Linked DNA regions of Homo sapiens. The protein of the gene in region 3 interacts with the protein of the main gene of each other region in a pairwise test. Each region holds a gene or a part of one and is shown on either strand. Other genes may lie near its edges.

Region 1 (3,754 bases), on a different chromosome or scaffold from region 3:
ACTATATGCTTCTTAAACACAGTTTGTCTTTCCCATTTTCTCTTTCCAGTTCTTTATACTGTCAAGGGATTGGTGCAGAAATGGGAAACAAAGCAGTGAAAGAAAAACTATTTATTTCTTTATACACATTTTGCTTTAACAATCACCAAAAAGACTTTCATTTTCTGTCACCCACCCTGTCCACCAGTTATGTTGGCCTTCAATATATGGCGTTAGCAACATATATAAATCTATATCATATATTTATACACACAAACACATTCTACCAGCACTGTGAAGACACAGACTAGGCTTTACTAGGCTTGGGGCCTCTCCCATGCCACTTAAAAATGAGCACAGGTTTGCTCTATGCAAGAATTTCAACAGAGTTGGTCTGGCCATCAGTCTGCAATTTCCCCGAGATAAGATAGGGTGACAAAATGGGACAGCAACTTTGAAGTGAGGTCAGTCCAATTTGGATATCATAGAAGAAAAGAAATAGGATGTGCTAGGTTAAGCCTGAGATGGTATCTGGGAAGTCACCACATTCATGATGTGAACTCAAAGAACACAGGTGCTACAGTGCAGACCAAGGCCCAGCCTGACTCGACCCAACAGGGTCAGGTGTGGATCTGTGAGTAGTGCTCACTGAGCCCCCGCCAGCAGTGTCCGGCAGGGCACCGCTGCTCAGTAGTGTGCTTTTAGAACCTGCCAGAGGAGCTCCAGCATTGGGACCACGTGCCCCTTTCATCGGAATCAGGGTCCTATATTCACTGAGTTTTCCATCTCAGGACAGCTGATGAGGCAAGAAATGTGCTCTTGCTAGTTCCCAAGCTGCTGGGGCTGTTGAGAGGCAGGATCACAAAACCTTCTGTGCAAACTACGCATCTTTTTCTTAGTGCTGGGCCAAGTGGACCTTGGCTAATCGTATTCCATAGCCGTCAGAAAGGCTTTCTGCCTTTCTCCCAGCTCCACCAGGATACATCTCTGACTCCCTCTTCTGGACCCTCCCGTGGACTTGGAGGAATGAGGCCCAGATGCTCCTCAGCAGATAGGTAGCTGCACAAAAGGGGGACAGGCCCACCTTTCCTGCTGTTTTAAGGACTTCTGGTGGCTGCGCTTCTTGCATGGTTCCTGGAAGGCAAGGGTCACAAGGCTGGAGTACATGGCAGAGCCCTTAGGGATTTCACCTGCAGACAAACATAAAACAAACCAAATCAGTGTATATTGCCAGGCCCTACTGATGGCTACCTGAAGCTGGAGTGAGAGCTACGTGGTGACCAAAGCCAGGAGCACGGTGAGAGCCAGTTAAGAGGATGAGCTAAGAGCATGCGCTGCAGTCTGGAGGAGCAACAGGTGCCCGAGGTTAGGGGGAGCCTCCCCACCTCCCTGTGTGCTGAGATCCCTGCTCCAATTCACTGCACACTGGGTGGCTGGATCCTACCACTCCCCCTTCAGGGGCCAGGTGACTCTCCAAATCACTTTGTCTCAGCAGAAAGAGGCCTTTGCCATGTCCACCCAAGAAAGAAGTGCTTAGCATGAAACATGCACATATAGAAACAGCCTGTTTGTAGGAAGAAGAGGACATTTTGCTGGGAAGCCCTCTGTTAAGTTTATGTCCAGTTGCCATAATGAGGGTGTGGAGGGGCCAAGTCCACAGGGACCTCAGAGCTCAACTAAGTCCAGTTCCATCTTTGACAGATGAGGGTGCAGCAGTCTCACAGAGACTAAGGGACAAGCCAAAGCCACACAGCAGTTAGTGATAAGCCAGGGATTAGAACCGAGGCCTCGGGTCCTTTCCAGTGATCTATGGGAGGTGGAGGGGAAAGCTTCCACACTGGAGAAAGCCAGTGGATACTAGAGATTTTTGGGTTACCTTTTAGTGGATACTAGAGACTTTTTGGATTACCTTTTCTGGGACAGGAATAAGGCTTTACAGAGGCAATCCTGTAAGTGCTGCTCTAAAGAGGCTCAGGAAAGAGAAGAATTATCAGAGAAAAACAAAAGGGAATTAGTGAAAAAATAAAAAAAAGAGCAAGTTAAACTGGCCCAAGTCATTTTCACACTATGGAGATCAACATTCTCTCAGGTTATGGATTAGAAACATTTCTAGGAATATGCTGAATTGCTTATGGCAAAGCTTTGATGTCCATGTTAAAAGGTTTAGTTTCTGATTTTTAACCATTTCATATACCTCAAGTTTTTCTTCAAAGCACTTCCTAGGGAATGATTAACACTTAGTGTTTTAAGTAAATGTAGATAATGTCTGGTACATATATAACATTTTTTCCCTGAAGGTTCAGTTGTTATTTATTAACAAATTCGCTTTTAGACCAATGAGACCCAACAGATCTCTTTTGTCATGTTACTTAAAGATATAGCAAAATCAAATTGCTGTTCTTAACCCGGGAATGTGCAGTGAAATCAGTTTATTAGGTTGCAAATTGCTTTTACTTTTTCATGAAGAGTAGAACACATAACTGGCCTCAAGATCCCTCTACTAGAAGCTCATTCAGAGGCAGACTCCCGAATGTCTAATGACTTCAAGAGTCAGCTGAATTGCATTTCTCCAGTCTCTGAACTTGGCCTCAAAGAAGAAAAATTGGAGTAAAAAGGAGAGATGATGACAATGTGAGAGTGAACCAAGATACAGGGGCAGGAGCTGACGGGGTGGGAGGGTGATGGGGACAGAAACTAGCAGGATGCTCACTGAGGACCTGTGATCTTGCAAGTGGACCCCAAGTCTTCTCCTGGAAGGCCAAAGCAGGCCAAGGGTCACCTACAAGATCTGCTAACGGATGGTGATGGGTGGGGGACAGGCTTGGTGCCTCTGACTGGTGCAGTAGTTTCCTTACCTCTAAGTTAGTCCTTGCCTTCTTTAAAACATCATGTGTTCTGGTTACTGAAACAACAAAAGAGCACCACAGAGTAGAAACCACCAGCAGAAATTAACCCTACTTGCTTAGCATGAGAATTCTAAAGCATTTATTTCTTTCTGGCTATTCAGCTTGGAGTCTCCTTCTATCCACCCCCTGTCCTCCCCTCCCTCTGCAGCCACAATTGCTCCTGGTACAGGAGGTTTGGGGACATCAAATCAGTCTCAACTCCCAACATCCCCAAGCCCCCCTGGTCACTGCTCATCTGCAGCACAAGTGGGGCATCGGGAAGACTGCCTGTTTCTTCCCCCATTCCCTCTCAGGGAACCTACGCTGGCTGACGATGAACTGCTCCATGCTCTCCTTCTGCTGGTTGGCGTTCTTCAGATGCTCAGTTGTGCTCTGAAGGAGTCGCTCCTGTTTGGATACTTTGGTTCTCAGTTCCAGAAGTTCCCTTTCTGTTGATTCTCCCTGGATAAGAGGAACAGACTCTTACTGACCAGGCAGAAGGCCTAAAGCACCCTGTGCTTTGTGGCTCTTTCCAATTCAAAGAAGGATTCTACAGTCTTCTCAACTCTCTTGAACTGGATTTCCTCCTTCACAGCCTCGGATACCTCCAGCTGAGGACAGTTCAGGATGAGGCCATTAGGCAGGAATAATGAGACTCTGGAATTCCCCATGCAGACTAGCACAGGCCTACACACCTGTAGCTTAAGAGAACCTCGCCTCAGGCTGGTATCAAACTCCCAACTCTGAAGAGGACCTTGCTTTAGTCCTGATATCAGTTCTGTCACTCTCCCTTCACAGGTAAGATTGAGAGTTCAGAAGTGTTATGCTGGGGTGAGAGATCTGGACTCAGGGAAGTCTGCAAGTTTGTAAATATTTGTGCCAACATGAAG
Region 2 (3,654 bases), on a different chromosome or scaffold from region 3:
ACGTTAAATTAACTTGTGAGCTTAAAGATAGTTTTTGTTTTTAGTTAAATTTTACAGTGATACCAAACGTTTTATGTGTTTATGAATAAAATAGAACTTCAAATGAAGGTCAGTTTTTGAAGATCATTTTATTCATTAAGCACATCTATATTGCCACCTTGTATGTGCTATACCCTAGAGATAAACATAGCTAAAACACTAAACATGAGAAAAAATTCTCCACAGATTTCAACATCTCGAAAAATAGACAAGTATACTGGAAATTACAATGTGGTAGTGAGTGCAAAGCTGGACGTACATTTTAGGTAGAATTACTGAAAACTAAGAAAATTGTTCCAGAACCATATATCAGCCATATATTGTAACCTACCTTTCTCTCCTTAAAATCTTAGAATACCAATAGTCAATGATTAAATATAACCTCAAATCTATCTATCTATCTATATATATATATATACGCACACACAAATATACTAAACTTTCTTTAACAATCATATGCTGCAAACAACACTAAAAAGTCCAGTTACTAGAGTTGAATTAAGTTCTCAATCTCACAGTACTTGTAGAAAAAATATATAAAGTCCAGAGGTTTAGATCTTTTAAATCTGATGACACAATTGTTAGTAATCTACACAAAGACAGACAAAATAGCTAATTATCAAGAATTCTTTAATCAGCATGCTGTCTGTAACTTTATAAAATTAACCTTTTAATAGGTACAGAAAAGGAAGGTTTTTGTTTTGTTTTGGACAATTAGAAGAATAGGACAAAGCATAAAGAAACCCAAAGGCTTTATATCTTAATTTATTTTAAAAGGGCTTGGGGAGATTTAAGCTTCTTACTCAAATTTATTCTGTATGTTTCTCCCCTTCAGTGGTTTCTCCCTGCCTGCAGGACCATAGCCAAACTCCTTCTCCCGCTGTAAAAGGCTCTACAGGAGCTGTCCTCCCCAGCCCCACCACTTCTTCAACTTTATCTTTCATATCCTTAGAATTTGTGACCCAACAATGCTAAACTACTTGTGCCATACTCTGTAGTTTCTGGGCCTCTCTCCATTCCTTCTTTCCTATTGTCCTTCCCCTCTTTTTACATAGCTATCTCTTACTGGTCTTCCAGATTTCAGTTCAGATGTCAACTTCAACGGGAGAACTGAGAAGTCTAGGTTAAATTCCTGTCCTCTGCATTCTCATAGCATCCTATGCTTATCCCTACAATAAACTTACCCCACTCTATTATTATAGCCCATTTTCTCACTAACAGTAAGTTTTCTGAGGGTGGTGTCAGGTTTTACTTCATTTACGGATATACTGCAGAGTGTCTAGTATGAACTCAGTGAGTACTTATCAAATAGATCATTGCCTAAGAGGTTCCTATCCCAGCCTTAGGGAAAAGGTATGTGTGTGGGTGATGGTGGTAGGTTGATAAGACAAAGGAAAACATACTGAAGAAGGTGAGGTTCCTACTGACCCCTTAAAGGATAAGGAAGTACTAGCTAAACAAAAGAGAGTGGAGGATGGAGAGGCATTCCACTAAGCCTACGGGGCAGCAGGCATAAAGGTTTAGACAGTGAGAAACAGCTGGGTTGTGGCAGAAATAATAAATCCTTTGTCAACAAAGAAGCCAAGACAATTCAATGGGGAAAGTATAGTGTTTTCAAAAAATGAAGCTGGGACAAGTGGACACCCACATGCAAAAAGAATACGTTTCAACCTTTACCTCATACTGCATACAAAAAAAAATCAATGAATATGCATCAAAGACCTAAATATAAGAGCTAAAATTATAAAACTCTTGGGAGAAAACACAGTAGTAAATCCTCATGACGCTGAATGTTTGATATCCATATTGGATAGTGAGACAATAACTAGTTCGGATTAAGACCATTCTCTAACTTCGGTGTCCTCAGTAAATGGCATAGTTTCTGGTATATAGAACATGCCCGATACATGTTTTTAAAAACAAATGGTTCAATGCAGATGTCTTTGTAAACAAATATGTCTTCAAAGGCCTATGATATAAAAAGATTATTTTAAAAAATGAAACTTCCCAAAATATCAAATTAAAGCATATGGAGTGAAGCATTAATTAGCTGCTCTTAAGAAAAACTATGGAAGCTGAGACAGGGCCCTGGAAAACACTGATACAGAAGCAACTTAAACAGAGATACCAAGCTTCTTCAATAATGCTTAAATAAAAGTAAAGCTACGCTAAAAGAAAGCTTCCTTGTAAGATCAAGGTGGACTATAATGGCATCCATATGTTGTGCTATACCCAAGGTGGCTAAATAATTATTTTTAAGTTAAGCATGGGTATATACCCTTATAGTTAGTTACTGGTTCAAAAGGGGAGAAATCAACATTTTCTTATCATTTTGATCTTGCTTATTTTTACTCAGCTATATTTAAATGACCAATATTTTCTACAGCATATTTTGAGAACTCTAGCTTAATACTGCCAATGATATTTTAGAATTATTAGATTTCATAAGGGTGCATGCCCCAGTGCTTCAAGGGATTGTTTGCCTCACTATTACTTCAACAGAGAGGCCTAATTTTGAGTTAGGTTGCAGGAACTGGTCACTCTTAGGCTCTTATTTCTATAGGTCGTAAAAATTATGGAGAATGGGAAAGAGGACTCTCCTGGCCCCGATTTCTCCCTTGTCTTTACAGGATGGCTAATAACAAATTAACAGTTTGCTTTTTGGGGGTGCTATTAGATTATTAACTAAAACTAAGACACCTATTAGGAAGTAACTGACCCCTTATTTACAAAGAAGGGCCACTGCTTCTGTGTTCATCCTTGTTTAAGGTTTCATAATGTTTATACATCTTGGCAGTAATTAACATTAGTTCCTTACTGTATATTACATGCTAAAAATGTTGTCCTTTAATCAGCTATTAGAACCTTGTTACAGCTAGGTAAAGAAATGTTCTAAGTAAATCAAGTATCTACCCAAGACTACTGCCCTTGTCTAAAACTATGCCATCTACCATAGTAGCCACGGGTCATGTGCGACTACTTACATTAAAATTAAATAAAATTAAAATCAGTCTCCAATTCACTCTTGCAACATGTCAAGTGCTCAATAGCTACATATGGCTTAAGGGCTACTGTAGTAGACAGACCCGATTTAAAACATTTACAAATGTTGGAGACTGTTTTCAGACTCATCATAAAAGCACTATAATATCAGCCTTATTACTACATTGCTATATTTTGTTTTTTTCTCTTTGCCTAAAAGTTATTGCCCAGTTGAATCATACTTATCTACATTTGCTTATTTCCTAAAATCAAATATTCTCTCAAAGGAGGAAGATCTGCAAGTGCTGTAGCTATTCAAAAAAAAAAAAAAAAAAAAAAAAAGCTTTTGCAGGCTCTGAATGCATTTCCGGATGATTTCCGGATGTAGTGTCAGAGTGTCAGAAATGGTTTGAGTAATCATCAGAGCCCAACAGGGCCACTGCCTTTGAGTTAATGAGGCTTATCTGTAAATGGATGTTTGCATGACTTTTTCAAAATCAGTCATTTTAAGTGAATACAGAAGGTATATAATACCTTTGGTTGCTGCTTTAATAAGTGGAATAAAAGAAACTCATAGGTTACGTTTGGTCTACACTCGCGTGAAGGACAAATACCTCCTGTGAATTCTAAGGT
Region 3 (3,754 bases):
GTGTGTGTGTGTGTGTGTGTGTGTGTGGTGCTGGGGTTGGGGAGGACAAAACTTTCTACAACAGCTGCTGCTGGGATGCTGACCCTCAGCAAACCCCTCAGGGAGTGGCAATTTCCACAGCTGGCAGTTCTCTGAGCTCAGAATGAGGCTTCTTATGTACCTTTTATTCTTAGCTGTGGGCCCTTAGTCTCCAGTTCTGGCAGGAGGCGCCTCACACCATCTTATCACATGTAATTGTCACATTACATTCAATTGCCTTGTGTATCTTATTAATGGAATTGGCTTGATTGTGTGGTAAGCCACCAGATGTGCAGTGGCCGTGTAATTTCACACCCCTGAACCTCGTTGAGCTCAAACGACTTATCTGATCATGTTGCAAGGTACTGCTTTCACCAAAAGGAATTTAAATCAGAAGATGTGGCACAAGACGCGTTGAGAAAGAAGCACCAAGAAGCCACCCAACCTAGCAGCAAAACAGCAGGAATTTGAGAAACAGTGTCGGGGAAGAGGACAGACGTGAAAACTGTTTATTCATACAGAGGAGGTTCCAAGCCACGAGGCGCCCGTCGAAAAGCACATCACCTCTGTAACAACACACGAGACACGGCCATGGCTTCACAGCTGCAGCAAATCCCAATTCGCCCCACGACACATTCGTCTGCCCTCTGACCATCATTCAATGTCCCTCCAACTTCATTCAAGTCTTCTCCTTAAAACTGTTTCCTAATCTTCATGCTATGAATGGTATTTTCTTAACACATAATTTTGTAGATAAAGAAAAACAATTAAAGTGTCATTAGTTGGTGCTTTTTTATATGAGTGAAAGACCTGACATTATTTTCCCCTCAAGCCAGAAAATAATAGGGAGGAGAAAGCATGAAGACGTCTCATCCTTAACCCAAACCATTCACACCCAAGTCACACAGGCCGGCTGGCTCTCCTCGCACCTCCGGTCACTTGGCCTTCTTGCCACCTTTCAGGGACTCCAAGGCGGCCATCCTCGCCTCCTCCTCTGGGATGAACACGCTGACGGTGAAGTCGCTGGTCTCCGAGCCATACTTGTTCTTCACAACCAGCCCGTATTTGCCCGAGTCAGCGGTGCTCACGCCGTTGATGGTGAAGTACGCGGTCCTCCCAGCCTCGAACTTGAGGTTGCAGTGGTCGTCTGAGGCCAGGGCCTTCTCGTTCTTCAACCACGACACCTCCGGAGGCGGGTCTCCCCACACGTTGCAAGTGAGATTAAGGGCCTGCAAGACAGGTTTTATGGGAGAGAAGAAGATAAATTAGATGTAATAGACACACTGTCAACAATCTTGCCGGCTGGTGGCTTGGCATGACCAAAGGGAGGATAAGTAAAAGCCTCCCGGACCAGGGTTTAAAGTAGTTCTGTGTATGCACCTGTGTGAGTTACAGTTTGAAATAACATGTGAGGGGATCTCCTCAAGGCCTTTTAATGCTCCTCAAGGCCTTTATATGCTTTCTGGCTTCTGGAATGCTTATTATCAAAAACACACGAAAGAGTTTATGTCTATTCCCCATTTTCACTTTCTCTTTCATAAACATATAGATGCCTTTTGCTCTATTGTGGCATTTTGGGTTCTGTCTCGGTACAGGAATCTCATTGCTGTAATTGCCACCTGCTCACTTTTGCCTTTCATTTGCATCAAAGAGCCGGGCAGCAGAATCACGGCAGCTGCTTCAGATAATGTTACTGATTTTCAAATTCCACCACCCTTATTTTACTTCTCTCCTCAAAGCCCATCCAATCTGCTGCAGTTGCAGTGGTCCCCTACCAAAACGTATTCCTAAAGAAAATATTCCCATCTGTGCTGAAACCTTATTCTAAAAGATCGATATTCTAGATATGTATGTAGACACAAGGTCTACAGTTTTATTTTACCTTACTTTTTTTAATTGAAAAGGATTTAGATAATTGTAAATTCACATGCAGTTGTAAGAAATAATAAAGAAATCCATAAGAAATAATAAAGAGATCTGGTATGCTGTCTACCCAGCTTCCCAGTGGTAACATTTTACAAAACTATAGTAGAATGTCATAACCAGTATATTGACATTGATGCAATCCACCGACCTTATTTAGATTTCTCTAATTTTACTGGTGCTTATTTGTGTTTGTGTGTGTTTCATTCTATTCAATTTACAGAATATTTTCATCACCACAAGAACCCCTTGCGTTGTCCTTTTATACCCACACCCACCTCTCCTCCAACTTCCAAACTCTGTTCCTAATCTCTGGCAACCACTCATCTGTTTTCCATTTCTAAAATTTTGTCAGGTCAAAGATATTATATAAATAGAATCATGCACTGTATAACCTTTCAGAATAACCTTTGTAACTCAGCATAATTACATCCAGATTCATCCAAGATGCTGCATGTATCGATAGTTTATCCCTTGTTCTTGCTGACTAGAATGTCATACTATGTTTATGCCCGTAAGGGTCATCTGAGCTTTTTCCAGTTTTAACTATGATGCACTAAGTTGCTATGAACATTTGTGTACAGGTTTTTATGTGAGCATAAGCTGTCATTTCTCTGGGATAAATGCCCAGGGATACAATTGCTGGAATGTATGATAAATGCATGTTTCATTTTTTCTTTATTTTTTTTAATTAAAAAAATAGAGAATAGAGATGGGGTCTCATTATGTTGACCAGGCTGGTCTTGAACTCCTGGTCTCAAGCAATCTTCCCATCGTGGCCTCCCAAAGTGCTGAGATTACAGGCATGGGCCACCACACCCAGCCCATGTTTTCTTTTTTTTTCCCAGAAATTGCCAAACGGTTTTTCTGAGCGGCTATACAATTTTGGCTTACATTCCCACCAGAATATACAAGTGATTCGGTTTCTCCACAGCCTCCCCACCATTTGTTGTTGTACACCAGCCCACCCAGCTACTATTCTTTATTACAGCAATTCTGATAGGTGTGGTGTGATATTTCATTGTGGTTTTAATGTTCACTTGCCTGGTGGTTAATGATGTTGAATTTACTTCACATTTTAAAATTCCATTCTTGTATTTTTCTCTTACTAAAATCCAGATGTGATAAGGAAAGAACTAGGGCTCACAATGTACAGAGAAAGAACACCCATCTACATAGCTTTCTAAAGGGTCTTACATGATTATTTGTTACCCCTTTTGCAGGTATATCATTTAAAATTGGATAGATTAAGAAATCTGTTTTTCTCCCATCACTAATTAATATTTCTTACTGAATTATCCTACAAATACATTTCAGTCAAAAAAAGAGGAGTCCAATTATTATCCTTAAACTTAATGAGCAGATTAGGTATATGCTTTTGGAAACTGTGATTACTTGTAGTTAAAACTTTTAACAAAATGAAACAAAGTCCCAAACACCCCCTGACAGTCTAGTGGTTAGGAAAAAAAAATGTGAAAAAGAAAAAACAAAACTCCCAAACACCTTAGGCATCATGGAAAACTCTTATCCACACTTCAGATTTGGGTTCTGCATTACAAAGTACTTTCATATACATTCTCTTTCTTAATTCTCAGTACGACCTAGAGAGTTGTATATTTTTAACCTTATTAGGTGAGGAAAATGGAAAAGACAGTTGAGGAACAAAAGAACCCCTGCAGTGGCTGAGCTTAAAATCAACCGTGATCATATTTTCCAACCATGAGGAAATGCAGTTGAATGAAACCTACCTCTTGCTAAAGCATTTCCACATGCCTTGCTTTGTTACCCGAATTCCAGTCACCCACTGTATGTC

The links.
Region 1: the proteins of MYOM1 (region 3) and PDE4DIP interact in binary tests that used the Homo sapiens proteins (3 or more experiments, as listed by UniProt).
Region 2: the proteins of MYOM1 (region 3) and FMR1 interact in a two-hybrid assay, tested with the Homo sapiens proteins (one large-scale study listed by IntAct).

What each region holds. Positions count from the first base shown.
Region 1 is NC_000001.11:149,029,359-149,033,112, reverse strand, and holds the end of PDE4DIP (myomegalin), read right to left. Parts: intron 3,327-3,754; coding exon 3,188-3,326; intron 2,882-3,187; coding exon 2,835-2,881; intron 1,941-2,834; coding exon of another isoform or gene 1,889-1,940; intron 1,170-1,888; coding exon 1,128-1,169; coding exon of another isoform or gene 1,024-1,127; 3' UTR 97-1,023; downstream 1-96. UniProt on the Homo sapiens protein: Functions as an anchor sequestering components of the cAMP-dependent pathway to Golgi and/or centrosomes.
Region 2 is NC_000023.11:147,918,265-147,921,918, reverse strand, and holds part of FMR1 (fragile X messenger ribonucleoprotein 1), read right to left. Parts: intron 1-3,654.
Region 3 is NC_000018.10:3,066,309-3,070,062, forward strand, and holds the end of MYOM1 (myomesin-1), read right to left. Parts: intron 1,248-3,754; coding exon 954-1,247; 3' UTR 499-953; downstream 1-498. UniProt on the Homo sapiens protein: Major component of the vertebrate myofibrillar M band. Binds myosin, titin, and light meromyosin. This binding is dose dependent.